Regions from separate parts of the Homo sapiens genome. Here region 2 is linked to region 1. The links come from fine-mapping of genetic effects on gene expression. Tissue or cell type: aorta. Region 1 holds a variant in brackets; the other region holds the start of a gene. All regions are shown on one strand. Distances are between the middles of the regions.

What was found. PIP is the estimated chance that this variant, and not a neighbour inherited with it, causes the effect.
Region 2: it holds the start of JCAD, and the variant in region 1 is fine-mapped to the expression of JCAD in aorta (GTEx, PIP above 0.99).

What each region holds. Positions count from the first base shown.
Region 1 is chr10:30,021,439-30,036,793 of GRCh38, reverse strand. JCAD (junctional cadherin 5 associated) reads left to right here. Exons shown (of 4, transcript NM_020848.4): 3 at 6,928-10,691. Among named protein-coding and RNA genes, the nearest start is that of JCAD, 30 kb to the left of the region's middle. RefSeq lists enhancers at 1,605-2,201, 6,969-7,697, 7,698-8,427, 9,146-9,215, 9,396-9,455. The variant C/T (reference allele first, on the strand shown) is at 8,650.
Region 2 is chr10:30,052,507-30,067,861 of GRCh38, reverse strand. It overlaps JCAD (junctional cadherin 5 associated), which reads left to right and starts at 8,276. Exons shown (of 4, transcript NM_020848.4): 1 at 8,276-8,380. It overlaps LOC101929256 (a long non-coding RNA gene), which reads right to left and starts at 9,024. Exons shown (of 4, transcript XR_001747405.2): 1 at 8,836-9,024. RefSeq lists silencers at 4,428-4,722, 8,164-8,333 and an enhancer at 10,618-11,155.

The DNA of each region.
Region 1 (15,355 bases):
AATGACCACAGCGAAGCATGGCTGACTGGACTTTGAGGGCCCCCACGGGAGGACCAGGCTCAGGATTTTGTTCATGGAGGAGGGAAGGGTAACTGTTTGTCTCACTTCCCACAGAACCCCCAGTTCATTAGGCAGGCAGCAAGCCTCTGGCTGATTTCTTAAGTTAATCCACACATCTATCCCGTGCTCCTGGGTATCAGGCCCAGTGCCAGGCTGCAGCTGCCTGGGTGATAACAAGTCAGTGTGGCTCATGAGGACCTTGGAGGCCACTGAGAAGATGGGGAATGTGAGCCAGTGGTTACAGGCATTCCAAATGTTGCATTTTTTTTGTTTTTTTTTTTTTGAGACGGAGTCCTGCTCTGTACTGCCCAGGCTGGAGTGCAGTGGTGCAATCTCAGCTCACTGCAACCTCCACCTCCTGGGTTCAAGCCATTCTCCTGCCTCGGTTTCCCAAGTAGCTGGGATTACAGGCACCCACTACCACGCCTGGCTAATTTTTTGTATTTTTAGTACAGACGGGGTTTCATTCACCGTGTTGGTCAGGCTGGTCTTGAACTACTGACTTCAGGTGATCCGTCCGCCTCAGCCTCCCAAAGTGCTGGGATTATAGGCGTGAGCCACTGTGCCCAGCCCAAATGTTGCTATTCTAAGGAGAATCACTTTTTAAAAGAAGGGTATCATTTTCCATTGTGGTTGAGAAGGAGTCATGTGAATGAACAGAACTGTCTCCTAATTTTTCTCATAATTAGCTGCTGCATATGCAGTGAATAGACTTGCTCATTTTCTGTTAAACATATTGTTTTTCACATGCTCATATTTCAGATGTTTCCCAAGCAGTTGCTAGTAGTTGTTTCGCTGGCCTCATCTCTCCTGAGATGAGAGATGGGGCTGTTGGCAAGTGTAACTTCTGTTTCATCTCCGTCCCGTTCACCCGGGAATTCTGTGTAAAGACCCTGCTTGTCCCATTGAACTCATGGACACAATTTGTCTGGGCGATCACATTCCACTTTGCTTTCCTTATCTTTTTCCCACCCTGTGTTAATGTGTTCAGCATGTTTTCCTAGAAGTGCCATTGTTAATGTCTTTTAAAATGTAAGATAATTAGTTTCATTTTTCTAAAAAGAAAAATTTGATCTCATTTCCTTAAACATATCAGAAAATATATTTTTGGCTTTGAAACCCTATGCAGCAGTACACATTTTAGCTGGTAATGGGCGTCCTATAGCGAAGCTACTAGAAGAGCCATTCTTGCTAACTTGTCTGAAGGAGAAATCTACCAGAGCGACCCCCATGGGGAGTCCGCTTGCACCTGTCAGAGCCCAGCCCTTGCTAGGTACAAAATAGATGTTTATTAATTAAATGGTTTATAGTTTTCTATGTCATGTGGACTGCGTTGCAAAGTAGATAATTTAAAATTTCCCGGATGACCTGTATTTTTATTAAATTGGAATTTTGGCACCTTGTGCAAACAGAAGGAAGTTTAACCCAAAATTCTTAGTTATTTTGGTTTGTTATATATGGCAGTTTTGACAAAGTTAAAGTGATAGTGTAACATTTTTGGGTGGAGAAGAAAACCAACCACGCTCCCTCTGTAGGAAGTGACAGGCTGTTTGTATTCTTGTCCTATTTCTGTCATTTTTTATCTGTCTTCTGATTATGCTCGTGGCGTGTACTTGCACAAGTAGCACCTTAGGATTTTAGCCCCTTCTCTAAGCACACTGTGAAACCCGAATATCAATTGAGAAAAACGCGTCAAAGCCACACGGTACGGTTTCCTCCCTAAAGTCATGCAATCCAGGAAAGCGTTCACAGGACTGTCAGGAATGAGAACGGTGCTTCATAAAAGCCTACTCACCATCAGCCTAAGAGCAGAGGTAAGAGGGTAGATTGTTTCTGATGCAAAGCACCAACCGCATACTTCCTAATGATTTCTTTTAGCCTTTCACAGTGGGGTGTAACAATTGTAATGCCTTATTACATGGTAGTTTTTAAGTCTTGCCCTTGGATTTTCTATAGAGTCTGGGAGCCTATAGACAGTAGGTGCTGAAGACTTTTCAGTGGTTCATGTTCTACAGCATTTCTCAGGCTACTGATGGGCGGTCACACAGGAGTCCCCAGGGGAGGACTCTGTGGCTTCTGGAGCTGCAAGCCTGGCTCAGCTAAAGTGGGGAGGGAGGGAGGAAAGGGGCTATGCAGAGGGGCCAGTGACGATGGCTTTCAAAATGACTAATCTGTGTCGAACCTGACCAGGAAGCAGTCTTCTCAGCATTCAAAACCCAAATGCTCAAAACATAATTTCAATGACAACAAAAGCAACACAGAAATTGTGACCTCCTACCGTGCCCGGTGTTAAGACAGTACAGGTCTTATACCATGTACAGGTCGTTAACACAGAAGCATTGAGGCTGCTCAGTGGCAAATGTCTTACCTCAGATTGATTTTGGATATTTTCTGGTTTTCCAGCCCATAACTAAGCTTTGCTGTAAATGACTGCCTAACAAGTTAACAGGGGGTAGAAGTAGATACAGAATTATTGTTATTATCATTATTATTATTATTATTATTATTATTGAGATGGAGTCTTGCTCTGTCGCCCAGGCTGGAGTGCAGTGGCATGGTCTCAGCTCACTGCAACCTCCTCCTCCCGGGTTCAAGCGATTCTCCCACCTCAGCCTCCCGGGTAGCTAGGATTACAGATGCCCGCCACCACACCCGGCCGATTTTTATATTTTTAGTAGAGACAGGGTTTCACTGTGTTGGCCAGGCTGGTCTCATACTTCTGACCTCAGGTGATCCACCCACCTCAGCCTCCAAAGCGCTAGGATAACAGGCATGAGCCACTGCACCCGGCCTTGGATACAGAGTTTGAGGGGCTATCCTTACCTTTTAAGGCAAAGAGGTAATTCCAAAATAAGAATAGTAGCAATAAAAATAGAAGTTTTTACCAGGGCTCCTGCCCACAGCCTTCTGCCTCTGTGATTGGAAGGGCTCTCCTGCAGCCCAGGCCCCAGCAGGGACTCTTCCAGGCTTCACGCACTGTTGCTGCATAGAACTGGTGGCCTTGCACCTCCCAGTTTCATGTTGTGTTCACTCTGCTGTGCCACCAGCTGAAAAGCAGACTGTGTTGCTGGAATCATTCGAAACCACAAAATGTATAATAACACCTAAGCACATGGGGAAAAAGAAATCGACCTCACTAGTAATCAAAGAAATGCAAATTAAAGTAGTGAGAAGTTATGGGGAAAAATAGTTGTAATAACTAGGGATGAAAAGGTTCAGCAAGACCGGCTCTCCTCTGCACGACAGGAGGGACTATAAATTGGATAGTTTATCTAAGGTCAGTTTGACAACATGCATCACACAACACCCCATGATCTACTCACTTCTTTTCTAAGGACTTACTCTAAATGATCTGAGACCTACATCACGTGTTTGTGAACAATAGTGTTTTTCAAAGTGTTTTAGAATAGAATCCACATCAATGTCCAACACTGGTAAAGGGTTAAGTAAATCCTGTGTGTGTGAGGGAATACAATTCATCCATGAACATTAAGCACCTGAGGGCGTTTTCATTACACTGGAAGAAGTAAAATGCAGGGTTAATTGAGCGTTTTAGGTTCACATTTCTTGGCTTAGAGCTCTTTCACAAATCCTTGCAGGCTGTGTAACTTGGGGAAATCATTTAACCTACCTGTGCCTCAGTTTTCTTATCTGTAAAAGCGGGAAGTAGTGGTAATTATAACGTTGAAATGAAATAATTCACTTGGCATGCTTAGCACCATGCATGGTACAGCATGGGTGCCCAGTAGATGTTAGTATTAAGCAAGTTACTTAACACCTGTGCCTCAGTTTCCTCCTCTGTAGAGTGGTATTGACAGTAGCTTCTACCTCAGAAGGATGTTGGTGAAGCTTAAATGAGTTAGTTTGCAGAAAGCACATGGCTTGGACCTAGCACACAGCAACCACCGTGTAAGCAGCTGCTGCTGTTTGTGCTACAAGTGTCAGGAAATGTTCACATAATACCAGATATCTAGTAGAATACCCAGGCTGTTCAAAAATTCACATCCTCACACACACACACAGGTGAGAAGATATGTATCAAAGTAACCATCTCTGAGTAGAAAGAGTATAAGCAATTTTTGTTTTTTGTACTTTTTTATATTCTTCCAACATTCATTTTCAACAATGAATCCATTACTGTAATAATTTAAAAAGCAAACAGCTATCCTAGACTTGAAACATTTTTCAAGTCAGCCCGGCCCATGGTTAATCAAAACTGTTGAGTCCCCTGAACTTCCTTCCAGTTAATGGTTTTTCCCTATTACATGGCCCTAGTCTCTGATCATTCATGGGTAGTAGCTTAATATTTCTGCACATTATGTTCTTCAGATACTTTCCTTTGGTTGCATTAGAACTGTGATTCTGAACTCTCCCCGCATGCTAGAGTCATTTGGGAGATTTTGAAATATACTGGCTCCTCATTAGACCAATTAAATCCAAATATTTGGAGATGGGCCCTGAGCTTTGGTATTTTTTAAAGGCTCACAAGGAAATCCTAATGTGTGGCCCAGTAGTGAACAACACCCTGCATTTGATACTACCATTTCCTGCCTTGCAGAGAGTTTCACCCCATGAACAGGGCTCCCCTCTTCCTCTAGACAATCTCAATGTAAGCCCTAGCAGTGTTTCCCAAAATTGAGGATAAGAATCCTCTGAAATGCTTGTTAAAAATACAGATGGAGCCGGGCGCGGTGGCTCACGCCTGTAATCCCAGCACTTTGGGAGGCCGAGGCGGGCGGATCACGAGGTCAGGAGATCGAGACCATCCCGGCTAAAACAGTGAAACCCCGTCTCTACTAAAAATACAAAAAATTAGCCGGGCGTAGTGGCGGGCGCCTGTAGTCCCAGCTACTTGGGAGGCTGAGGCAGGAGAATGGCGTGAACACGGGAGGCGGAGCTTGCAGTGAGCCGAGATCCCACCACTGCACTCCAGCCTGGGCGACAGAGCAAGACTCCGTCTCAAAAAAAAAAAAAAAAAAAAAATACAGATGGGGCTGGGCGCAGTGGCTCACTCCTCTAATCCCAGCACTTTGGGAGGCCGAGGTGGGCGGAAGACTTGAGGTCAGGAGTTGGAGACCAGCCTGGCCAGCATAGTGAAACCTCGTCTCTACTAAAAATACAAAAATTAGCCGGGTGTGGTGGCAGGTGCCTGTAATCCCAGCTACTCGGGAGGCTGAGGCACAAGAATTGCTTGCACCCAGGAGGCGGAGGTGGCAATGAGCCGAGATTGTGCCACTGCACTCCAGCCTGGGCGAAAGCGAGACTCAGTCTCAAAAAAAAAAAAAAAAAAAAAAATACAGATGGGCCAGGCATGGTGCTTCATGTCTGTAATCCCAACACATGAGGAGGCGGAGGTGGGAGGATTTCTTGAGGCCAGGAGATCAAGGCCAGACTGGACAACACAGCAAAACCCCATCTCTACAAAAACATCTTAAAAATTAGCAAGACATGATGGAGTGCCTGTAGTCAGTCCCAGCTACTTGGGAGGCTGAAGTGGAAGGATTGCTTGAGCCCAGGAGTTTGAGGCTGCAGTGAGCCATGATTACACCACTGCACCTAGCCTGGGTGATAGAGTGAGACCCTGTCTCAAAAATAAATATATAAATAAAAATATAAATACAAATGCCTGGGCCCTAACCCAGACCTACCAAGTCTGAACTTTCAGTGGGAGAGACTTGGTAATGTGTATATTTTACAAGCCCACTGGGTGATGCTTACCATCAGAGAGATGAGGGGACTCTGCTAGAGACATCTTTCTCAATCTTGGCTGCACACTGGGAATCTCCGGGGACACTTGGAGAGTCTCGGATGCCTGATTGCCTCGCCCTCCATTTACCACCCACACGTCTTAAGATTGTAATGTAATGTGTCTAGGATACTGCCTGGCATCTGGATTTTTGAAGTCTTCCTGGATTCTAATGTGCAGTCAGGGTGAACAACCACCAGCAATGATGATTCTCAAAGTAAGGCCCTGGGACCAGCAGCATCAGCATCATCTGGGAACTTGCAGATTATAGAGCCCCTCTCCAGACCCGCCAGATGAGAAGCTGGGGATGGGACCCAGCAATCTCTCTCTTAGCAATTCCAGGACTCAGTGATTCTGATTCTCACTAAAGTTTCAGAACCCTTGCTTAAAAACAGTGTTTTTAAAAGCAGGTTCCCAGATTCCCTCCCAGAGATTGCACAGGAGGTCTGGACTGAGCCGGCAATATGCTGCAAGTGGTCCAAGACCACACCTTGAGAAATACTACTGAACAGTTAACCCTTGTTCCCTTGGGCATTTTTTTTTCCTTATGAGGCAGGGTCTCACCGCTGCCCGGGCCGGAGTGCAGTGGCGCAATCACAGCTCACTGCAGCCTCGAACTCCTGGGCTCAAGCAATTCTTCTACCTCATCCTCTGGAGTTGCTGAGACAGGTGGGCACTACCATGCCTGGCTGATTTTTAAATTTTGTGTAGAGACAGAGTCTTACTATGTTGCACAGGCTGGTCTCAAACTCCTGGCCTCAAGAGATTCTCCCAGCTTGGCCTCCCAACGTGTTGGGATTACAGGCATGAGCCACGGTGCCCGGCCTTCCACCAGACATTTTAATGTTTATAAGGACCTTGACATCGCTGGAGTACACCCAACATCCCTGTATTCTTGTGGGCTGCCCACTGCTGCCCCTTCTTGGCCCTTGATGCCAAAACACGTGGCTGTCTTCCAACCATAATTAATGGGATATGTTTTCTTTCAAGCTGGCAAGTACTGTGGCTGGGAACCAAGTTTTCAAAGTTGCTGACCTGAGTTTGACTTCGAATGCCAGTCACAGAAGCAGATGAAGACATGTTTCTTCTGTGCCTAACGTCTGTGACTCTTTGTTTTGTAGGTTTTGTAATCAACCCCCCTCAGCATGGTCCTCTCATCCCCCGACTGGTAACGACCAAGCCTACCGGAGAAGAGGACGGCAAGAAGCCAGGAGCCAGAAGCCGAGGGAGCACGAAAACCTGGAGGCCAGAGGAATGGCCCAAGCCCACAGCCTGCCTGTCCACGTGAGGGAGGGTCCATGGGAAGTTGGAGGAAGGTCAGAGCATGTGATGAAGAAGCCAGTTTGGGAAGAAGAATTGCGAATGTCAGGTCCTGCCAAGTGGCAGAACGTCAGCCTGGAAAGCTGGAACCAGCCAAGGAAATTAGGGAGGCAGATGTCTGATGGAGATGGGGAGAGACTGTTTCAAGACCTGTACCCATTCATTCAAGGAGAACATGTGTTGAATTCTCAAAACAAAGGGAAGTCTCGCTCACTGCCTAGAGTTCTTTCCCCCGAGAGCCTGAGTTGCACGGAAATTCCCATTCCATTAAATGAAAGACATTCACCTAAAATGCCACCGTATCCTCCCACTTGCGCACCAAATTTGGACTCCACGAGGAATTCTGAGAAGAGTGGCTGCTCAGCCCCATTTCCCCGGCCTAAGTTTGGGAGGCCCCTCAAGCCCCCATCTTACAGCTCGCACCAGCAGTCTAGGGGAGGAGCGGACAGCAGTGACTCTCAGGACAGCCAGCAGATGGACGCCTATGTCCCCAGGCATGAGCTCTGCCTGTCAGACCCTGGATTGGAACCTCCAGTGTACGTGCCTCCGCCCTCATACAGATCGCCCCCGCAGAACATCCCAAACCCCTACTTGGAAGACACGGTGCCCATAAATGTGTGTGGCGGTCACAGTCAACAGCAGTCTCCGACCGAGAAGGCTGGGGCCAGCGGTCAGCCTCCTTCAGGCCCCCCTGGAACTGGGAATGAGTATGGTGTGAGCCCCCGCTTGCCTCAGGGGCTCCCCGCACATCCCCGACCTGTCACTGCCTATGACGGCTTCGTTCAGTACATTCCCTTTGATGATCCACGGTTACGACATTTTAAACTAGCTCAGCCCCAGGGTTTCTGTGAAGACATAAAGCTTGACGATAAATCATATAACTCCAGTCCTGTCACTGCTCAAGAGCCGGCTCATGGAGGAATGCAGCCTGATGGTGCCATTTGGAATCCACAGAGCTTAATACCCCCGTCGGGGGATGAGAGAGGCCTGGTCTTGGCCGATTCCAGCCCCCGGTGGCTGTGGGGCCAGCCCCCCGGGGATGGGGAAAACAGTGGCCTCCCCAACCAGAGAGACCGCTGTGTGGCAAGGGGACAGTGGCCTGATGTGAGAGGCAGCCAGCACGGGCACACTGGAAGACAAGTTTCCTCCCCTTACTCACAGGGCGAGAGCACCTGCGAAACTCAAACCAAGCTCAAAAAGTTCCAAACTGGGACTCGGACCAAGAAAAGTTCAAAGAAAAAAATGAACGAGACTATATTTTGCTTGGTTTCTATCCCAGTGAAATCAGAATCACATCTGCCAGATAGAGATATGGACAACAATGACTTAAAGCCCAGTGCTGATCAAAAGAATGGGTCTGATAAGAGCCCGGCTCTGCAAGAACAGAGTCTGCTGAGCATGTCTTCCACCGACCTGGAGCTGCAGGCCCTCACAGGAAGCATGGGTGGGAGAACGGAGTTCCAAAAACAAGATCTAGGGGAACCAGAAGAAGACAGACAAACAAATGACCTCAGTTTCATCCA[C/T]CTTACAAAGCACAGAGAACTCAAGCATTCTGGCTCTTGGCCAGGGCACCGGTACAGAGATCAGCAAACACAAACCAGTTTCTCCGAGGAGCCCCAAAGTTCGCAGCTGCTCCCTGGTGCAAAGCTGGGAGGGCCGAGTCGTGCAGCATTGAGTCCAAAATGTTCAGACCCTGCTGCCTCCGAAGCTCAGACGCACACAGCATTCCCTACCGGTGATCACAAACAGAGGCCAAGTGCCCGTAACCTGAAAGGTCACAGGTCCCTCAGCCCATCCAGCAACAGTGCGTTCTCAAGGACTTCCTTGTCCGTGGACCAGGCACCGACGCCAAAAGCAGGCCGAAGTCAGCCCTGCGTGGATGTCCACGGGCTTGGAGCCCACCCTGGGCCTAAGCGGGAGGTGGTGAAGGGGGAGCCCACGGGCCCTTGCAACAGTAAACAACTCTTTGGGCAGTTTCTCCTGAAACCGGTCAGCCGTCGTCCCTGGGATTTGATCAGTCAGTTAGAAAGTTTTAACAAGGAGCTCCAGGAAGAGGAAGAAAGCAGCAGTAGCAGCAGCAGCAGCAGCAGCAGCAGTGAGGAGAGTGAGGCGGAGCCGCAGCAGGAGAACCGTGCTCACTGCAGACAGGAGGATGTGGGCTTCCGCGGAAACAGCCCGGAAATGAGGGTTGAGCCACAGCCGAGGATGTGGGTGCCGGAGAGCCCTGTGTGTAGGTCGGGAAGAGGTGAGAGTAAGTCTGAGAGCTGGAGTGAGGAGCTGCAGCCTGGCCACCCACGTGCCTGGCCTCCATCCCCGGGCCGCTTTCGCGTGGAAGAAGGTGGCGGTGCACCTTTCTGCTCAGCAGATGGAAGCACGAGTGCAGAGAAGAGACACCTGGAGGTTAGCAACGGAATGGACGAGCTGGCAGGTAGCCCATTTCCTGTGACGAGAATGTCTTCAAGATCAAGTGACGCAAAACCACTGCCCGCGTCCTATCCAGCTGAACCTAGGGAGCCCCAGGAAAGTCCGAAAATCACCAGTGCTTTCAGCTCTGTGAAACCAAGTGAAGCGGTCCCTCGGAAGTTTGACAGTGGTGGAGAGAGGGGGGCAGGGCTCCCACTGTCCCTGTCTAACAAGAACCGAGGGCTCTCAGCTCCAGACTTACGGTCTGTGGGGCTCACCCCTGGGCAAGAACAGGGTGCCAGTGAGCTAGAGGGGTCTTTGGGTGAAGCAAGCACAATAGAAATCCCCCCAGGTGAGTCCTTGCAAGCCAGGGCTGCAAGGATCCTGGGCATTGAGGTGGCGGTGGAGTCCCTCCTGCCGGGCATCCGGAGAGCGGGACAGAACCAGCCTGCTGAGCCCGATGCAAGTGCCTGCACCCCAGAGTCCCCCCAGGAAGAGTTGCTATCTCGCCCAGCACCGGCAGATGTCCCCAGGGTGTCCACTGATGCCTTTTATGGCAGGAGGAAGTGCGGCTGGACCAAGAGCCCTCTCTTTGTAGGGGACAGGGACAGTGCCAGGCGGGCTCCTCAGGCTTTTGAGCACTCAGATGTGGACGGGGTTGTCACCAGCACAGACCCTGTCCCTGAGCCTGAGCCCAGCCCCTTGGAGTCCAAGTTCTTCGAACAAAAGGATGTGGAAACAAAACCACCCTTCAGGTCCACTTTATTCCATTTTGTAGAAAGAACCCCAAGTGTGGCAGGCTCTGAAAAGAGACTTAGAAGCCCTTCCAAAGTGATTGAAAGTTTACAAGAGAAACTGGCCTCCCCGCCTAGGAGAGCAGACCCTGACCGCCTGATGAGAATGAAAGAGGTGAGCTCAGTGTCACGGATGAGAGTCCTGAGCTTCAGGAATGCCGACTCCCAGGAGGACGCCGAGGAATTGAAGGCCACCACAAGGGGCCAGGCCGGGCTCCCGGGAGGCCTTGTGTCTCCTGGCAGTGGGGACCGTGCCCAGAGATTGGGCCACTCACTCTCTGTGTCCAAGGACAGCATCTCCAGGGAAGAGAAGGAGCATCCGGCAGCACAAAAGGAGAAGAGCATGGATCAAGACTTCTGGTGCCCAGGTGAGGAATCAGGCAGACAGGCAGGTGCTCAGTATACATTTGGAGTTTTTAGTCAGTACAAAATACCAGGTTGGTGGATAATGTAAATCTGCATATTCAGAAAAGATCAAGTTGACCCTGGGAATTGTTTTATCAAAAGATTCCTCATTTTCGAAGAATTATCCAGAAGCCATCTTTAAAATTCAAGATCTTGCAGTATATTTTATTTTTTTGAGATAGTATCTCACTCTGTCGCCTGGCTGGAGTGCAGTTGTGCAATCTCTGCTCACTGCAACCTCCGCTGCTTCCTGGGCTCAAGTGATCCTCCCACCTCAGCCTCCCGAGTAGCTGGGGCCACAGGCATGCACCACCATTTCCAGCTAATTTTTTAATTTTTTTATAGAGACGAGATCCCACTATGTTACTCAGGCTGGTCTCGAACTCCTGAGCTCAGGTGATCAGTAGAAGAGTTGAGATAAATGTCAAAAGATCCACATCATAAGCCATGGACTGGAAGGGACCTTCTGTCATTTAGTCTAAGCCTTTTCTCCCTCCCCTCCCCTCCCCTCCCCTCCCCTCCCCTCCCCTTCCCATTTTTTTCTTTTTGAGACAGAGTCTCACTCTGTTCCCCAGGCTGGAGTACAGTGGCACGATCTCGGCTCACTGCAACCTCCGCCTCCTGGGTGCAAGCGATTCTCCTACCTCAGACTCCTGAGTAGCTGGGACTACAGGCGTGTGTCACCAGGCCCAGTTTATTTTTGTATTTTTAGTAGAGATGGGGTTTCGCCATATTGGCCAAGCTGGTCTTGAACTCCTGACCTCAGGTGATCCACCCACCTTGGCCTCCCAAAGTGCCAGGATTACAGGCGTGAACCACTGAGCCCGGCCCAGTCCAAGCCTTTTACAGTAAGGGGAAAAGAAAAACTTGGTCCTTACGAGTTGAGTTAGAGGAATGCCCTCTCCTGAGCTGGGCCCTTCCCTCTTCCTACCCAGTCTCCAGCAGGTGGTTCTGCTCCTCCCACCCCTTTCTATTTTCTGTTTTGAAACCCAAGAATTTTGAAGCAGATAGAAAAGAGCTGTTGTTTCAGTTGGAAGTAGTCAGAGATTTCTATTGAACAAAAAAATGTAGGGCCGGGTGCTGTGGCTCAAGCCTGTAATCCCAACACTTTGGGAGGCCGAGGCGGGTGGATCACGAGGTCAGGAGATCGAGACCATCCTGGCTAACCCGGTGAAACTCCGTCTCTACTGAAAATACAAAAAATTAGCTGGGCGTGGCGGCGGGCGCCTGTAGTCTCAGCTACTCAAGAGGCTGAGGCAGGAGAATGGCGTGAACCTGGGAGGCGGAGCTTGTGGTGAGCCGAGATTGTGCCTCTGCACTCCAGCCTGGGCGACAGAGCAAGACTCCGTCTCAAAAAAAAAAAAAAAAAAAAAAAAATGTACATGGGCACTCTCAAGTTTCCCCCAAATACAGTGGGATTCTTAGGGGTGTTAGCCAGTGTTGCTTCTCTGCTCCTTATGCAAAACACATGATTGAAATAATCCTTCGTCGGGGCCCCGTTGGATCCTCTAGTTGGACAAGCTGGGCCTTTGCAGTGGTAGAGAATACTGAGAATGTGAAGGCTTTGCCATTATGGTAGGAAAAGGGTTACCTGCCCATTTTTTGAGCTTTCTGGATTTATTGTAGCCTTCAGCATAATTCCTCTGCAGTCCCCCTTCCTCCTCAAAAAATATGCCCACTAGACTTTAAGGTTAGTTAAAACTTGTCATAGACTTCTAAAGCAAGTTTTCTTCATCTATAAAATCAGGATGATTTTCTCAGTCCTACATCTTCCTGAAAATTGTAAGGAGTTTAAAATAAGACAAATAAATCCTGTTATAATACAGTACCAGTTGGTAAATATTTCTGTGTCTCAGTTCATGGAAACCTATTTCAGGAAGGTTTTTTGTTTTGTTTTGTTTGAGACAGAGTCTCACTCTGTGGCCCAGGCTGGAGTGCAGTGGCATGATCATAGCTCCCTGTAGCCTTGAACTCCTAGGCTCAAGCGATTGTCCTGCCTCAGCCTCCCAAGTAGCTGGGACTACAGGCATGCATCATCACACTCAGCTATTTTTTTAGTTATTTGTAGAGATGAGGTCTTGCCTACACTGCTCAGGTTGGTCTTGAATTCTTGGCCTCAAGCAATCCTCCTGCCTCAATTATGGTGCCCAGTCTAGGGAGTATTTGATAACACAAAATTTCCAGTTCAGAAAAGCACTCCTTCAATTTTTAACTTGACTATTTAGTGTGAGAAGGTCCAGTAGGTATCTAAAAACACCCAGGTAATGCAAATTTTAATTTTAGCCAGTTATTAACAACACCTCCCTCATGACGTTTTTGGGTTTTTTTTTTAACCACTGCTACTAACAAGCAGAAAATTTAATTATTTTTTTCTCCTCTCCATCTGATGCATTTGCTAATATACAATAAAATGGCCAAAAATCTGCAGGCAGAGAGCCACTCATGTTGACAGCTTCCTCGGGCATTTTCAAGTACAGTCATGCGTCGCTTAATGGGGCTGCACTCTGAGAAATGCATCATTAGCAGTTTTGTCATTGTGTGAACACCATAGAGAGTGCACTTCTACAAACCTAGATGGTAGAATCTACTACACACCTAGTCTTCATGGTAGAGCCTATTGGTCCCAGGCTGCAAACCTGTACAGCCTGTTACTGTATGGAATACTGCAGGCAATTGTAACGCAATGGAAAGCATTTGTGTATCTAAACATATCTAAAGAAAAGGTACAGGCCGTGCGTGGTGGCTCATGCCTGTAGTCCCAGCACTTTGGGAGGCTGAGGTGGGTGGATCACTTGAGGTCAGGAGTTCAAGACTGGTGTGGCCAACGTGGTGAAAACCTGTCTCTACTAAAAATACAAAAATTAGCTGGGTGTAATGGCAGGCACCTGTAATCCCAATTACTTGGGAGGCTGAGGCAGGAGAATTGCTTAAACCCGGGAGCCAGAGGTTACAGTGAGCTGAGATCGCGCCATTGCACTCCAGCCTCAGCAACAAGAGTGAAACTCCATCTCCAAAAAAACAAAAAGAAAAGGCACAGTAAAAATATGGCATAAAATATTAAAAAAAAAGAAAGGACCACTTTTGTAGGGCACTTACCATGAATGGAGCTTGCAGGACTGGAAGTTGCTCTGGGCAAGTCAGTGAGTGAGTGGTGACCGAATGTGAAGGCCTAGAAAATTCCTCTACACTACTGTAGACTTTATAAACCCTGTACACTTAGGCTACACCACATTTGTTTAAAAATTGATTGCACTATGACATGACGTCACTAGATGACAGTAATGTTTCAGCTTCATTATTATCTTATGGGACCACTGTCATCTATGTGGCCCGTCATTGACCAAGATGTTGTTCTGTGGCGCATGACCATAATCGGAGGGGAGAGCACCATTAGGGACGATATCTTACATTTGTTTTGCTCAGGTGGCCCCCTGTGGGCCTTTCATGTGATGGTCACCAGGCCTCAATATTCAAAACCACTCGTCTTGAGAGCAACTGAGGTCATATGATGGAGGTAGTAATACTTTTGACGTATGTCCACTTTTCCGCTCACTGTTGCTTCACAAGTTAGAGTAAAGCCTTGTTGTTAAGTCACTGAGAAGCGCTTGGACTTTGCTTTCCTTTTGATGTATTTAATCATTTTAAACATAAGAATCCTCATCTCTTCCCCACTGCACTGCTGCCCCCATGACCCCAGCATGCTAGAACTGCTTCATTGCTCCTAAATTTGTAGCCCATTTAAATTCAAGCATCTGTTCTGGCACTGTAACACAAGGCCATGCCATGTCTATCCGCACCACCCCACCCTACACACACACCCTTGTGCCGTGCCTGTCATATCATCAAGTGTCTTGAGATTAAAGTTGGTCGTTTCAGCTCACATGTCTTTAGTGGTCTTTCATGCCTCTGGTTAAGAAATCAACAGCCCAAAACGAGTTCGGGTCACAGACTCCCATCTTTGCTGGATGACTGATGCTCCAATTCGGAAGTGTCATCCCAGGCATTGATCGTACACAGAACCTCCTGGTTCCATCATCCTCTGTTGCAAACTCTGTTAATATGAGTCCAGGGGAAGAATGAGAAGAGATATCTGTGTGAGGCCCAAAATGAGGGAAATCGGGGAAGGCTTCATGATACCAGATCATGCCATGAGAAGGCTAGATGTTAGCACATCTCTGAGGGCGTTAATGTGTGAAATACCCACCAGGGCAGTCCTCAGTGAGTTGTCCTCAGCTGAAATGGAGCCCACAGGAAACAGGATTCTAAATTCTCCGGGTAACCACCCTACCCTCTAGACCTGTGCTGTCCAATATTGTAGCCGCTCATCACATACAGCTACTGGGCACTTGAAATATGGCTCATGCAAATTGAGATGTGCTGTAAGTGTAAGATACACACCAGATTCCAAAGACTTAGTACAAAAAAAGAATCTAAAATGTCTCAATAATTTTTATATTGGTTACATATTGAAATGATATTTTGAATATATTTGGTGAAATACAGTATTAAAATTAATTTCACCTGTTTATTTTTATGTGTTTCAACATAGCTACTAGAACATTTAAAATAATGATGGTTGGGCATGGCGGCTCATGATTGTAATCCCAGTACTTTCGGAGGCAGAGGT
Region 2 (15,355 bases), 31 kb before region 1:
GTAGGCTACACCACCTTGGTTTGTGTACATGCACTCTAGGATGTTTGCACAACAATGAAATCACCTAACAACACAATTCTCAGAACGTATTCTCATCATTAAGTGATGCATGACTGTACTTCAAAACCATACAACCCCGCTAGTAAGTGCTACCCTTTTGTACATCGAAGGACATAAGTCAAGGCCTAGCCCAGTGCCTGGCACATAAGAAACATTAAAACAAAGATAGTTCTTGGCCAGTTGCAGTGGCTTACGCCTGTAATCCCAGCACTTTGGGAGGCCAAAGTGGGCAGATAACCTGAGGTCAGGAGTTCGAGACCAGCCTGGCCAAAATGGTGAAGCCCTGTCTCTACTAAAAATACAAAAAATTAGCTGGGCATGGTGGCACATGCCTGTAGTCCCAGCTACTAGGGAGGCTGAGGCAGGAGGATCGCTTGATCCTGGGAGGCGGAGGTTGCAGTGAGCCGAGATCGTGCCACTGCACTCTGCACTCCAGCCTGGGCAACAGAGCAAGTCCCTGTCTCAAAAAAAAAACAGAAAAAAGGTAGTTCTCATCTCTCCCTTCCACCTTGTATTGCTAGGCATCACTGACTTAATAAAAGCCTGATACACCATTCTCTCCCCAAATGGAGGCATTCTTTTTACAATTAATGTAGTTCACAGTTATTTGCATAGTTCTTTTTTTTTTTTTTGAGACAGGGTCTTGCTGTGTTGCCCAGGTTGGAGTGCAGTAGCATGATCATGGCTCACTGTAGCTTTGAACTCTTAGGCTTAAGCAATCCTCCCACCTCAGCCTCCTGAGTAACTGGAACCATAGGCATGTACTACTATACCTGGCCATTTATTTTTATTTTTTAGTTTTTTGGAAACAGGGTCTCACTCTGTTGCCCAGGCTGGAGTGCAGTGATGCCATCTTGGCTCACTGCAACCTGTGCCCCCTGGGTTCAAGTGATTCTTGTACCTCAACCTCCTGAGTAGCTGGGACTACAAGCACATATTTTTTAGTAGAGAAGGGATTTCACCATGTTGGCCAGGCTGGTCTTGAACTCCTGACCTCAAGTGATCTGCCTGCCTCAGTCACTTGAGGCAGGTGTGAGCCACGGAGCCCAGCCTATTTCCCATTTTAAAAACAAAAAGTCATATGGGGTTAAAAAATGCTTGAGTTAATTTTGATTTATTCTTGATTAGCTGGTATGGAATGGTGGGAGAGGCAGCCCAAGGGGTGCCCACGTCTGGACCACTCTGGTGCTGGCCACACCCCTGTCTGCTTGAAGCCACATTGGCATCCCCCCGGTACCAGCGGGATCCCTGACAGCCACTGCCATTCCCTGGAGGGCACCACCGCTCAAGAGGCCTCCTTATGAATTTGGCAAAGAATTTTATAAACTGCAGGCAGGGGGAAGCTTGGAATGTCTTTCTACCACTAGTAAACAGCAGCTCTTTGCTACGGTGAGTGTAACAGAGTTGTTTTCCATTAATATGTGGCTTTACGTGAGAACAAGCTGACACGAGGAGAGCAAACAATTAGAAATGATTTTTCTCATGCAGTAACTATGCAGATTCAATCTCCTCACAGTGGAGGTATAGGATTGAAAAATTGTTTGTCACTCTCTTCTTGGTCCCCAGCATTGTAGGTTTTGTTTCAGTTAGCGTCAAATCTTCTAAGCCAACAGTAAACATCTAATGCACTTGATTAGTGAAGGATGTTGCTATGTGACTCTCCATCATCATACAATGACGTTCACGGCTACTGTCTTTGCACTGTATACTACGTGTCAATCAATCCATTCCTCTCTTGACACAGATCATTTCTATTTATTGTGCTCCATCCCTGCTTCTCACACTTTACTGTATGTGAGAATCATCTGGGCATTTCCTTAAAGTACACATTCCAGGATCTCAAAGGTAGAACTTAGAAATTCTGATTGCATCGGTTTGATGAGGCCCAGGAATTTGGCCTTTAGTCAACTCTCCCTCCCCCAGTTGATCCTGGTGTAGGTGGTCCATGGAGCAGACTTTGAGAAACAGATTTCTAGTTCTTGGTTAAAAATAATTATGCAGGGCTGGGCATGGTGGCTCATGCCTCTAATCCCACCACTTTGGGAGGCCAAGGTGGGAACTTTGCTTGAGCCCAGGAGTTCAAGACCAGACTGGGCAACACAGGGAGAGCCCGTCTCCGCAGAAGATACAAAAATTAGCTGGGCATGGTTGTGTGTGTCTATAGTCCAGTTACTTAGGAGGCTGAGGGAGGAAGATGGCTTGAGCCCAGGAGGTCAAGGCTGCAGTGAGCTGTGATCACACCACTGCCCTCCAGCCTCAATGACAGAGTGAGAGTTCATGTCAAAAAAAAAAAATTATGCGATATAGTCTGTGAATTAATATAAAGCATAGCAATAACTAAAAACAAGTGTTATTAGCACTTGTTGACATAAAATCCTTTCTAGATTTTTTTCAATTTGGCAGCTTTTTATTTATTTATTTAATACATATTAGATGTAGATATTTTCAGGATCCATGTAATAATTTGATAAATTCATATAATCAAACCAGGGTAATAGGGACATCCATCACCTTAAATATTTATCTTTTCTTTATGCTAGGGACATTCAAAGTATTCTCTTCCAGCTATTTTGAAATGAACAATTGGTTAATGTTAACTATAGACACCGTACTGATATATCAAATGCCGGGTCTTATTTCTTCTAAGTGTATATTGTATGTATTAATCAGCTTCTTTTTATCCAAACCCACCCTTCCTGGCCTCTGGTACCCACCAATATACTCTCTATCCTCACAAGATCCTTGCCAGTTTCTGTGTAACCACTATTGCCTGACTTTCTAAAACAAGCCAACAAGAGAGACCTCAAGGTTTTATCGAGAATGTGGGGTTTTGGCCGGGCACGGTGGCTCACGCCTGTAATCCCAGCACCTTGGGAGGCCAAGGCGGGTGGATCACGAGGTCAGGAGTTCGAGACCAGCCTGACCAACATGGTGAAACCCCGTCTTTACTAAAAATACAAAAATTAACCAGGCGTGGTGGCACGTGCCTGTAATCCCAGCTACTCAGGAGGCTGAGGCAGGAGAACTGCTTGAACCTGGGAGGTGGAGGTTGCAGTGAGCTGAAATTACACCACTGCACTCTAGCCTGGGTGATAGAGCGAGACTCCATCTCAAAAGAAAAAAAAAAAAGAGAGAACGTGGGGTTTTTTTGGTCAATGGGTACAAAGTTTCATTTAGGAGGAATAAGTTCTGGTGTTCTATCTCACAGAAGGGTAACTGCAGCTAACAAGTGTATTGTATATTTCAAAATTGCTAGAAGAGAGGATTTTGAATGTTCTCAACCCAAAGAAATGGTAAATGTATAAGGTGATGGCGTATTAGTCCTTCCATTGCTTATAACAGAATACCCGCAGGTGGGTCATTTATAGAGAAAAGAAATTTACTTTTTACAGTTATAGAAATTTATTTCTTGTAGCTGAGAAGTCCAAGGTCAAGCGGCTGCATCAGGTAAGAGCTTTCTTGCAGGTGGGGACTCTGCAGAGTCAACCTAAGGTGGTATAGGGCATCACATGGTGAGGGGCTGAGCATGCTCACATGCTAGCTCATGTCTCTCTTCTTCTTATAAAGCCACCAGTTCCCCGCCATGATAACCCATTAATCCATTAACCCATTAATCTATTAATCCATGAATAGATTAATCCATTCATGAGGGCAGAACCTTCAGGATCCAATGATCTCTTAAAGATCCCATCTCTTGGGCTGGGCGCAATGGTTTTCACCTGTAATCCCACCACTTTGGGAGGCTAAGGCAGGCAGATCGCAAGGTCAGGAGTTCGAGACCAGCCTGGCCAACATGGTGAAAACCCAACTCTACTAAAAATGCAAAAATTTTCTGGGTGCGATGGCACTTGCCTATAATCCCAGCTATTCAGGAAGCTGAGGCAGGAGAATTGCATGAACCCTGACGCGGAGGTTGCAGTAAGCCGAGATCACGACACTGCACTCCAGGCTGGGCAACAGAGCAAGACTCCATCTTGAAAAAAAAAAAGATCCCATCTCTCAACACTGCCACATTGGGGATTAAGTTTCAACATGAGTTTTGGAGGAAACAAATATTCAAACTATAGCAGATGGATATGCTAAACACCCTGATTTAACTATTACAGAATGTATACAAGCATCAAAACATCACACTGTACCCCATAAATATGTACAATTATTATGTGTCAGTGAAGACAACAAATTTTTTTTTTAAAAGAGCGTTAATCTTTTAAAAAATGAGAACTGGTAGTGTCTTTACAGACTAAGAAAAACAAAATCAATATCTAAATCAGCTAAAGGAAACCTTATAGTCTACAGAGAAGGGCCCTAAAGCAGGGAGGGAGGAGGGTTGCTCTAGGTCCTTGAACAGGCAGTAAGTTAGAGAAACAAGATCTTGGCTTTTATTTTTTTTCTTTCTTTAAGCAGGCGGTTAAACATTATTTTTCTGGTTACTGCACATCTGCCCAATGACTCAATAATCCAAGTTCCTTCCTGAGTCTGTGAAATCCCTTCTCCAGGACTCAAGAAAGGCGGGGACATTGGGCATCCAGGGCTGGATCCTGGCACATGCTCCCAGGGCTGTGCCAGACTTCTAACAGCTTCATGTTAAATGCTGTTTTCAATCATAGTTTATATTTTACATCACATAAGCGAGTTTTTTTTTTTTTCCTGTGTTTAAATCTCCCAAGATCAAGTAAGTGGAAGCAAGAGACCCAAATTGCAGGAAAATGGGAGTGGGTAGGGATAAGGGAATTAGGAGGTTAGGCTTGTTTCTCTCACGTCTTGCCCACCATCCCTTGTCCATGTACTGGTGACCGGTGTGGAAACTGGCCCAGTGGATTTTCCTCATTACCTTTTATCTTTATTATCTTCCTACATTTATGATTAATCACCTGCTCATACTCATGCATCTTTTCAACCTTACTCTCTGATATGGTTTGGCTCTGTGTCCCACCCAAATCTCACCTTGGGTTGTAATAGTCCTTACGTGTTGTGGGAGGGACCCAGTGGGAGGTAATTGAATCATGGACGCGGGTTTTTCCCATGCCGTTCTTGTGATAGTGAATAAGTCTCATGAGATCTGGTGGTTTGATAAAGAGTAGTTCTCCTGCACATGCCCTCTTGCCTGCTGCCACGTAAGGCGCGCCTTTGCTTCTCCTTTGCCTTCCACCGTGATTGTGATGCCTCCCCAGCCATGTGCAGCTGTGAGTCCATTAAACCTCTTTCCTTAATAAATTACCCAGTCTTGGGTATGTCTTTATTAGCAGCATGGGAATAGAATAATACACCCTCTTTCCTCTTTGTTAATTCTATTCCCAGATCTTTAGAAAAGCTTTCCACCTTTCTGCTTGCCCCTCTCCCCACATCCACAGCCTCACCACCATCTTCTCTCTCCATCTTTTCATTCTGCTTCTTTGTTTGAAATGGCCTTAGTCATGCCAGGAAAACATTAGAGCAGGGCTAGGGATACATCAGTACTGAGGAAAGACGGAAGCCAAACATTTTGAAATGAGGATGTTAGGATAAAGAGCCAGGGTCAAGAAACTACAAGCATCTTGAAATTGTGAAGTCATCTTCTCTAGAATCTCCAGTATTTCAATCCCATTACATTCCCCTAATTGAATCTGCCTTTGCCAGCCTTTCTGCTAAAATACAATTTCTTATTAAACTTGATTTGGTTTGGTTTAGCTTAGCTCCTAGCATTGAATCAGTGTTGTTTTCTGATTTACTGCAACCCTACTCTGTTGTTTTGCAACTCTACAGCCCTTAGGTACATTATAAAACTTCCATGGGGTTGACCTAGAAACCCAACAATATGACATTGTTCTGTGGGGAAACACATCCTAATCTCAATTCACTGACTGATAAATGTTCTAGCAGGAATACTTGGCTCCCTAGGTGTCTGCACCATGCTGGGCACATAGAGGTGCTCCACCCCAGGACAAAGTTATTTCATTGAGTTGGCAAATTGAGGAGAAACAGGAATTCTATAAGTCATTGAAGAAATCCATCATCGAATGATGCTTTTTTGACAAGAAGTAATATCACTGCTGTTAATAACTGTGACTCCCCAGAAAAAAAAAAAAAAGTCTGCATTTCCTTTTCTATCTTTTAAATTTTGTCGAATCCTATTTTCCCAGCCTTTGTGTCTCTCCCTAGCCACAATCCACTTGTCCTTCAAAGTCTTCCCTGGTGGTTCCAAGTCAAACAGCAGTAGCTGTACAAGTGTTAATGGTAGTAGCTACTATTTTCTTTTCTTTCTTTTTTTTTTTTTTCTTGAGACAGAGTCTCACTCTATTGCCCAGGCTGGAGTGCAGTGGCATGATCCTGGCTCACTGCAACCTCCACCTCCCGGGTTCATGTGATTCTCCTGCCTCAGCATCCCGAGTACCTGGGATTACAGGCACCTGCCACCACGCCCGGCTAATTCTGTATTTTTAGTAGAGATGGGGTTTCACCATCTTACCCAGGCTGGTCTCGAACTCCAGACCTCCGGTGATCCGCCTGCCTTGTCCTCCCAAAGTGCTGGGATTACAGGCATGAGTCACCATGCCCGGCCACCATTTTCTTGACTATTACATGTACCTGAACTAAGTGATAAGAAGGCATCATCTCATTGAATTCTCATGACTCTCCTATGAGATGCAAACCATCATTACCCCCACTTTGTTAGAGAGGAAAGTGAGGCTAACAGAAGTAAAGTACCACATCTAGAAAGTGGCAGAGAAGCCAAGCCCGGGACCTGAGCTACCTGGTTCTCGAGCCCCTAATCATGCTGCCTGCTCCTATCGCCACCATCTGGTTTCCTCCCACGCACTCCTGATAATGCACAATACAACATTCAATTACATTGTTCGTTCTTTTCCAGCAATAGTGTGTTTAGCTTTTATGCTGTGTTAGATTATACGTTGCTACTAACCATGAGGAACATATGATTCAAGAGAACAAAGAAACGACCTTGCTCTGGTGGTTCAGAGCGAGGGTCTTGGGCTAGATTCTGCAGCTTGCCATCTGTGCCCGTCCCTGAGCCCACTCCTCATCTGTAAAGTGGTGCCCATATCATCAAACTGTGATGAGGATTAAAAGAAATAATACATAGGAAGGGCTCAGATGTGGTAATAGAGCAAAAAAAGTTAGTTATTGGTGTTTCGACAGCAAATACAGTCCTAAAATCATGATGTGGCTAAGTAGTTTTCTGAAAACTAATTTGGCAAGGTCACCAGTCTGCTGTGCCATCCATGTTTTGTCTGGGTGGACTTAACTAACATTCCCTGTCTCTCCCCAATGCATCAGCAATATTTCACATTTTTTGTCTTCTGTCTGCCTTCCAAAATTATGAAAACGTTCGCCCTGAGCAGACCCAGGCAGCAGTCTAATCTTTCTGCCCCTTCCCGCTGTAAGAGAAATATGGAGTGGGTTTGGGGTTACCCAAATGACCCCAAATGTTCATTCTGGTCTGAACTCTCCCACTGACCTCCTCCTATCTCTCCTCCTACCCCTGCCCTGTAGGCAAATCCTGCTCCTGTCATCAGTTTCCTCCTCTGCCACAGGAGAGTATGGGCCAGCTGATCTGAAGGTGGCTTCCAGACTCCTTCAGACTTTTTTTTGAAAGAAGTAAATCCCAAGCTGTTGTCACCATCACTGTTTTCTGCTCTTCATAATATCGATGTGTTATGTGGGTGCGTTTGTGTGTGTGTGTGTGTGTGTGTATAGCCATACTGTGTTCCCATGTATGTATGTATATGTGTCAGTGTGTTTGGCTGCATCTGTGCGTGACTGTATATGGGTGTGTTTGTGTGCACCTGCGTGTGACTGTATTTGAGTGTGTGTGCACTTGTCTGTGACTGTGTGTGCACCTGTGTGTCCTGTATATGTGTTTGTGTGCGCCTGTTTCCTGTGAGTGTGTTTGTGTGCATCTGTGTGTGGGTGTATATGAGTGTGTTTGCATACATCTTTGTGTGTTTGTGTGATATGAATATGTTTGCTTTCTGTGTATCTGTGAGAGTGTGTGTGTCTTTGGACATTTCCACAGGGTTGACGTGGCCCAAACCCAAGTGACAAGAAAAGAGGGAATGGTGGTCAGCTCACTTGTGCCTTCTGCGCGACCCACGCAGGCGGACCCCAAAAGCCTAGGAAGCTCGTGGCCTGGATACCGCCCTCAGCGCAGAGGAGGCAGCCCCGGGCGGTGGGCGGGGCGGGCCCGGGCGGTGGGCGGGGCGGACGGCGGTTCTCCGGGCATGCTCGGCCTCGGCGGCTGCAGGCGGGGCGGGTCGCGCTGGTCCCCGGCCGGCCGGAGCGGCGGCGGTGGCGGCGCGAGGCGGCATGAGGGAGCCGCTCGGTAAGTCCCGGCGTCTAACCCTCCTGGCTCCCACCGTCCATTAGGGCCGCTCCCACGGCGCTTCGCGGGCCTCACCCGCAGCCTCCCGCACTCCCCCCAACTTCTCCAGCTGGGACGTCGCTCCGGTTCCAGCCACCCTGGCGGTGGGGGATGTCTGCACCCCCAGTCGCAGCCCCGCCTGGGCCCCCCGCGCGGTGCCTAGCCCGGCAGCCTCGGGGTGGAGGGCGCCTGCCAGCCCGGGAGGGGCGTCCCCTCCCCTCAGGTGCCCCGCTCGGAGCGCGGGGGTCCCGGGGCGGGCACCGCGGGCCGCGGCTGGCGTTAGCGCTCGCGTCGCCCCTCGGCGCGCGGAGGGCCTGGGGGGCCGGGGTCACTCACTCCCCTCTCGAAGTCGCCCTCCCCAGCCTGTGTCCACCAACCCCTCCCGCGCCCTCGCGCCCAGATCTCGCGGACCTCACCCCAGAGCTGACAGCCGCCGCGCTGGGTCCCCGAGGTCCCAGTTCCCACGCTGCCCCGGCCGTCTGGACTGCCCGGGACGGTGGGGGGCTCCCGCCGCGGCCCCGCTCCCGCTCCGGTCTCTGCGCGGTCTGCGCTGGGGATTAGGGCGCTAATCGCAGCTGCCTCCCAGCGAGTGCCCGGGGCCGCCCGGCTCCTGGCTGCGCGTGGGATGGGAGAAGGGCAGGAGCCCCGCCTAGGAGTGCTGTAAATCCCGTTAATTATCTCATTTATGGGATCTGGAACCCGCCCTCCTAGGGTCTCTGCGCTCAGATCTCCGCGGGCACCCTCTACTTCCCCCGTCTCCAGTCGGGGTCCGTTCACCCCCAAAATGCCAGGGTTTGCCTCGATGCCCTGGCCACAGTGGGGCCCAGCACTAGCTGCTAAAAAGCGCCCCTCTCGCTTCCGTCAAGAAGCAGAGCGCCTGGGATTCTTCTGGGCATTTGTAAAGAAGCTGTGATTTCACTACTGAAGAAGAAAATAAAAACGAGAACTTTAGGCCAGCGCTACCTGGGCATGCCCTGGTGTTTGGTCATCCACGCGCTTAAGGAGTAGAGAGGCCTTGGGGGAATTAGCTTGGGCACATCACCTCCCCACACCTACACCCACTCTCCCACCCCCGCACGCACTCCACCCGCCTCCCGTGTCCTCATTCCCTCCCCAAATCTAGTAGCTTGGTCTTAGTCTTGGGGAGAGGGGTGGGGCGGTGCAGACCACACAACTCCCAGGGTTTCCTGTCCTGACAGTTTAATGTGATGTTTCTCCCACAACTTGTTTTCCTTCTCCGGTCTTTTGTCTTTTCAGATTTACAAGGAATAGATAACCCAGAGATTGAGGGCTAGGGTTGCAAAATACAGGGATTTGGGGGAAGGGGCCTGATGGGTAGGATTCGGGCAGCCAGAAATGCTCTGGCAAAAAAAGGCAGTCTGCATGGTGTGAACTGAGGGTCATGGGCTGTACAGGTAAAACTTTGGGAATGTCAGTTCATTTTAGAATTTTAAGACCACCCGGCAAAGCAAGAATGCATACAGGCTTTTTTGGAAATCATATGCAGATTCTATTTCATTGGACTTGTGTTGGTTTTCGTGTGACATTGGGAGTTTGTTAAAGTGGTTTGGTTTTCCATAACGTCTGTGGATTGGGACTTAATTATTTACCTTGACATTAGGTGTCTAATTCTTAGTCACCAGCTTAACAAGCTTCCTGAAGTCTCTAAGTGTCACTGTGGGCATGCAGCATGTAAGAAACTGTTACTCCGCCTGGAGTGGGCGAGCAAATATTTGTTGAACAGAGGCCTTTAATCTGCTGGGCCTTCCTCCTGTAAAACTTCACCCTTTGCTGCAGAGACTGGAAGGTCAGGCCCTTGGCAGGCCCAGGAGAATTAGGGGATTTGGGTGGGTGGAGAAAGCCTGTTTCGGGGAAAAAAGAAGTTTGGCCTGAGTGTCCACATGCTCTGGATGACTTGACAAAGTCATCAGGGTTATCAAATAGCTCATCGAGTGGTCACAGATTCCAGAAGCCTGTGGTCTATTGTTCGGCAGCTATAAAATGTAGCAGGGTTGGAGGTACACAAGGAAAATAAATAAGGACCAATTTTTTCACTTAAAAAAAGTAAATATGAAAAGATTCTTGTAGTCTAATTTTTAACATGCAATTTAAAAATAAATCCTAGAAATGTTATCAGTACAGAAAGCCCAGAAGTCTGTGGCTCCCCCAAGTTCTCACTGGCCAGTTTGGGAGGACAGTAAACACCAGTCATCCTTAGGAGTCCTTAGTTTTTCTTTTAATGAGCTTGGCGAAACTCCATGCTAATTAATCTGGAGAGCGTTTAGAACACAGAGCGTTGGAGTGAAACAATTGTTCTATTGTGTTTTTTATTTTGATAAGCAAAGACTATCTCTCTGAAGTCCTCTGGGCCTATTGCTGAACCCATTACTGCAGTTTACTTGGGTTTTTAACAGATGTTGTTTTTCCTCCTTTGGATGAGAAGGGTTATCTCTCTCATTAAAACCTTGCTCTTGTGCTTTGTTTCAAGGGCCTGCTGATGGAAGGAATGTTGAGGTCCACTGACTTGCAAACGCCAGCAGCCCAGGGAGGGGAGGTGTTGGGCTTTGATATATGCTTTAAACACTAAATGGTGTTTAGAAAAATACAGGAACCCCTCCCCCAGATACTAAAACCTCAATTATCTTGATTTGAATTGAAGATGTCTTGTTAAAAATTTGGATTATCTATAACCAAATATCTTTCCCAACAACTTTCTATAGATATGCTTGGGAATAGCCTGGTTAAATCAATAGGCTGGCAGATTTGTTATCAGATCGTGAAGTATCCTTATAGTTTTGGGCTTATTGGTTGTCTTTATAGTTTACCTGTAAAGATTGTTTTTTCTGTATGTAAATGAAAGAATTTAGATACTATTAGGAAGAAGCACCAAGATACATTCCAAAGAAGGAAAGAAAAAAAAAAAAGCAAGCAACTTGTCTGTGTAGGAAGAATAGTTAGAGAAACAGAAACCAGATTGTTGCTACTGGTTATCTCTTGGCACAGTGGGGTTACTAGGAACTTTTCCTTTTTACTTAAGCACTGAGTTTTGCAGTGTTTACTTTTGAAATCACTTTACATGACTTTTGTACTTAGGAAATAAATAGAAATGTAAAGATCATATGAAATAATTTAAGTCAAACACTTTGATAAAGACTTGGCTTTTTTTTATTCTGAAGATATTTAAAAACAAAACCAAAAGAAGGGTAAGTTTAATGGAATATTTAAGGTATCTTTACATGTGGAGCTTGACATACATGATGATAAGGGAATAAAACTCTAACCTATGATGATGTTTTACAGCTATTTTTGCAAATAGCCAAAAATTCCAAAAGATTTAAAAATCTTATCCAGTTTGAGTCCTTTCTTAATGACTTCTAATCTTTCAGAAATGTTAATGAGGTACTTAAGGTCTCATAAAAATATTGCTAGCCAAAGCAATAATTGTGTGACACAGAATTTAGAGGTGAAAGAGAAGACAGGAGAAAGAGTGTGTGTAAGTGCATGTGTGTGTGTTCACATTAGTTGTGGAAAGAAAAAAAAGAGGAGTCAGAAGGGATAATACTTAGGAAAAAAATTCAGTGCATAATGTTGGGGACTTTTTTCTTTTTCTTTCTCTTTTTTTGAACAAATGCCTTAATACCAATCCACCCCAGCAAGATTAATGTTCCAAGGTCCTTTTGATCTTAGACACAAGTTTTCCAACTCATTTGTTTTTTGTCACCTTAAAGAAACCTAAGGATGTCCTCCTAAAATGATTACTTCACAGATTAAGTATGATTTTTTACATCTTGTGAGATTTTAACAACTTGACTGCCTTGGCAGAGTTGGTCATCACACGTGTGGTATGGTAACAGCAGTCTGTGAGAACTTGGTGTCCCAGGACTTCAACTGGGACTGTTGCGTTATTTAATAATTAAGACTGGAAAGGGAAATAGCAATTCTATTGTTCATAGTAAAATACACAATTCTACCCTTAGGAAAAAATCTGTGGAAAGCATTAAAAACCTACGTGTCAGTTAGCAACATACTCCATTCTGGTTTGTTTTATGTCTTGGTGATTTACCTCTTGTTTAAAGAAAGTACTTTGTTATATATTAATCATAGCATTAGACCTAAATGTTGTCAGTTGAAGAGATATTTACACTGAACTGCCAACAATTTGAGGGACCAATTACATCTTAAGCATGGAATGTCAGTGAATACAACTGAAAAGTTTTAGGTCTTTTAGAGGAGTAACAATGTCTAATTAAGACCTTTTTAGAATGCTGGTTGTAACCTTGTATTAGATTTCTTCAGCAGCACATGTGATTTTGGCTTCCTGAAAACAGGTTAAGAGTCTCTCTGGCAGATAAGGCACATGTACCATATACTAGAGCCTTATGTGATTTACTACTCATTTATTCTTTTCTTCAATGTTTCTTTTATTGTCATTGAGGCTTCCAAATACCTAACCTATTTTTAAAGATGCATTTTCGGCCGGGCGCGGTGGCTCACGCCTGTAATCCCAGCACTTTGGGAGGCCGAGGCGGGCGGATCACGAGGTCAGGAGATCGAGACCATCCTGGCTAACACGGTGAAACCCTGTCTCTACTAAAAATACAAAAAATTAGCCGGGCGAGGTGGCGGGCGCCTGTAGTCCCAGCTACTCCGGAGGCTGAGGCAGGAGAATGGCGTGAACCCCAGGGGGCGGAGCCTGCAGTGAGCCGAGATTGCGCCACTGCACTCCAGCCTGGGCGACAGCGAGACTCCGTCTCAAAAAAAAAAAAAGATGCATTTTCCTCATCTAACCTAAGCAGCATTTCATTTATGAAAGTTTTTTTCTGATGATGAAATAGTTATATATAACTTAATTAAGTTATGTAATATGTTAATATATTAAGTTATGAATAATGATGATTGGTGATGAAACAATATTGTTATATTAAATTATATAATAAGAATGTGGATATTATATATGTTGTTATATATACTTAAGTTAATATTAAGTATATAAAGTTAAGTATAGTAAGTATATGAAATTGCCAATATTTGACTATTTTTGACCTGCAAAATGACAATTTCATATGATTGGACCTAATACATTTCATGACAGAATATCATAAGATTCAGTAAAGTATAAATAAGGAAATTTTTCAAAAACTCAGAGTCCATCACCTCTGCTGACATTTTGGTATGTTTCCTTTCAGTGTTTTTTCCCCTTTCAAGTACATATGTATATAAACAAATTTGGTATGACATTGAATCTAGGGTTCTGTATCCTGTCTTTATTATTTAGCGTGGTATCACGAGCATTTCCCTGTGCTGTTGTATACCTGAAAACATAATTTTATGTATGTGTATACATATTATAGTCCACTATATGGATGCACCAGAATTTTTTTTTGAGATGGAGCCTCATTGTCGCTCAGGGTGAGGTGCAATGGCACGATCTCGGCTCACTGCAACCTTTGCCTCCCAAGTTCAAGCCATTCTCCCACCTCAGCCTCCTGAGTAGCTGGGACTACAGGCGCATGCCACTACACCTAATTTTTCTTGGATTTTTAGTAGAAACGGGGTTTAACTGCGTTGGTCAGACTGGTCTTGAACTCCTGACCTCGGGTGGTCTGCCCACCTCAGCCTCGCAAAGTGCTGGGATTACAAGTGTGAGCCACTGCACCTGGCCCAGAATTTTTTTTTTTTTTACTAAATTAGACATTTAGTCTAATTTTGTTATTATCATAATTAAAACTGGGATAACTATCCTTATACAAAACAGTGTGTATCTCTGATTATTTCATTAGGACAGATCCTAAGAAGTGAGATTATTCCATAGGGTTTCAGATGTTTAAAGATTTTGTTACATATTAATAATTCTTTTCTTTTCTTTTCTTTTCTTTTTTTTTTGAGACAGAGTATCCGCTCTGTCACCCAGGCTGGAGTGTAGTGGCACAATCTCCGCTCACTGCAGTTTCCACCTCAGGTTCAAAGGATCCTCCCACCTCAGCCTACTAGGTAGCTAGGACTACAGGTGAGCGCCACCACGCCTGGCTAATTTTTGTATTTTTAGTAAAGGTGGGGTTTCACCATATTGGCCAGGCTGGTCTCTAACTCCTGACCTCAAGTGATATGCCTGCCTCAGCCTCCCAAAATGCTGGGATCAAAGGTGTGAGCCAGTGAACCTGGCTAATCACTTTTAAGAAGGGAAATACTCATTTTCATTTACATATAGCCTGCACCCCCCACCCCCCACCATTTATACACACACAAACAGGAGAACCCTTATAGCTCCTCATGCCCTTACCAACAACAAGCATTGCTTTTTAAAAGCTTTAATCATCTCATAAGTGAATAATGGCATTTTGGTTTAATTTGCATTTCTTTGATTACAGGTGAGGGTGACCATGCTTTTCATCTTTTTAATAGTATATTTGTCTCTCTTTTTAAAGTTAATTTTTAGTTTGTGTTCTAGGCCAATTTTAAAAAGGAAAAAAGTTCTGGTTGATTTAATGAGTTCCTTAATGTTTTGTTTCCTTTCACTGTCTTGAGCATTATAACTGTAAATATGAGAATTAAAATGCTTATTTTTATAAATGGAAAGGAAGGAGAAGATGGTACCTGTTAAATGGCATTCATTTGCCAGTCCTAACCTTTAGTGATGAGAAGATCCGTAATTGAAATAATACCACCTAGACCATAGCATCGCAAGGGAGGGTGCTGACGGGGTCTTATTTGTCTTTATATTCTTCAGCCCAGTGCCTGGCACTTCCAATGTAAAACAAGTGCCCTGATGAATTTACGTTGGCGTAAGCGTGCAGCACCCGCACTCTGGGATGGAGAATTGCTGGATGTTTCGCTCCTGGCCTGCCTTCCCTAGCCCACTCCTTTCCTCAGTGGGTGGCCATTTATCCCTACTCTCTTGGGTGGCCTCTGCATGGGTGCTAATAAGGCCAAGGTCAG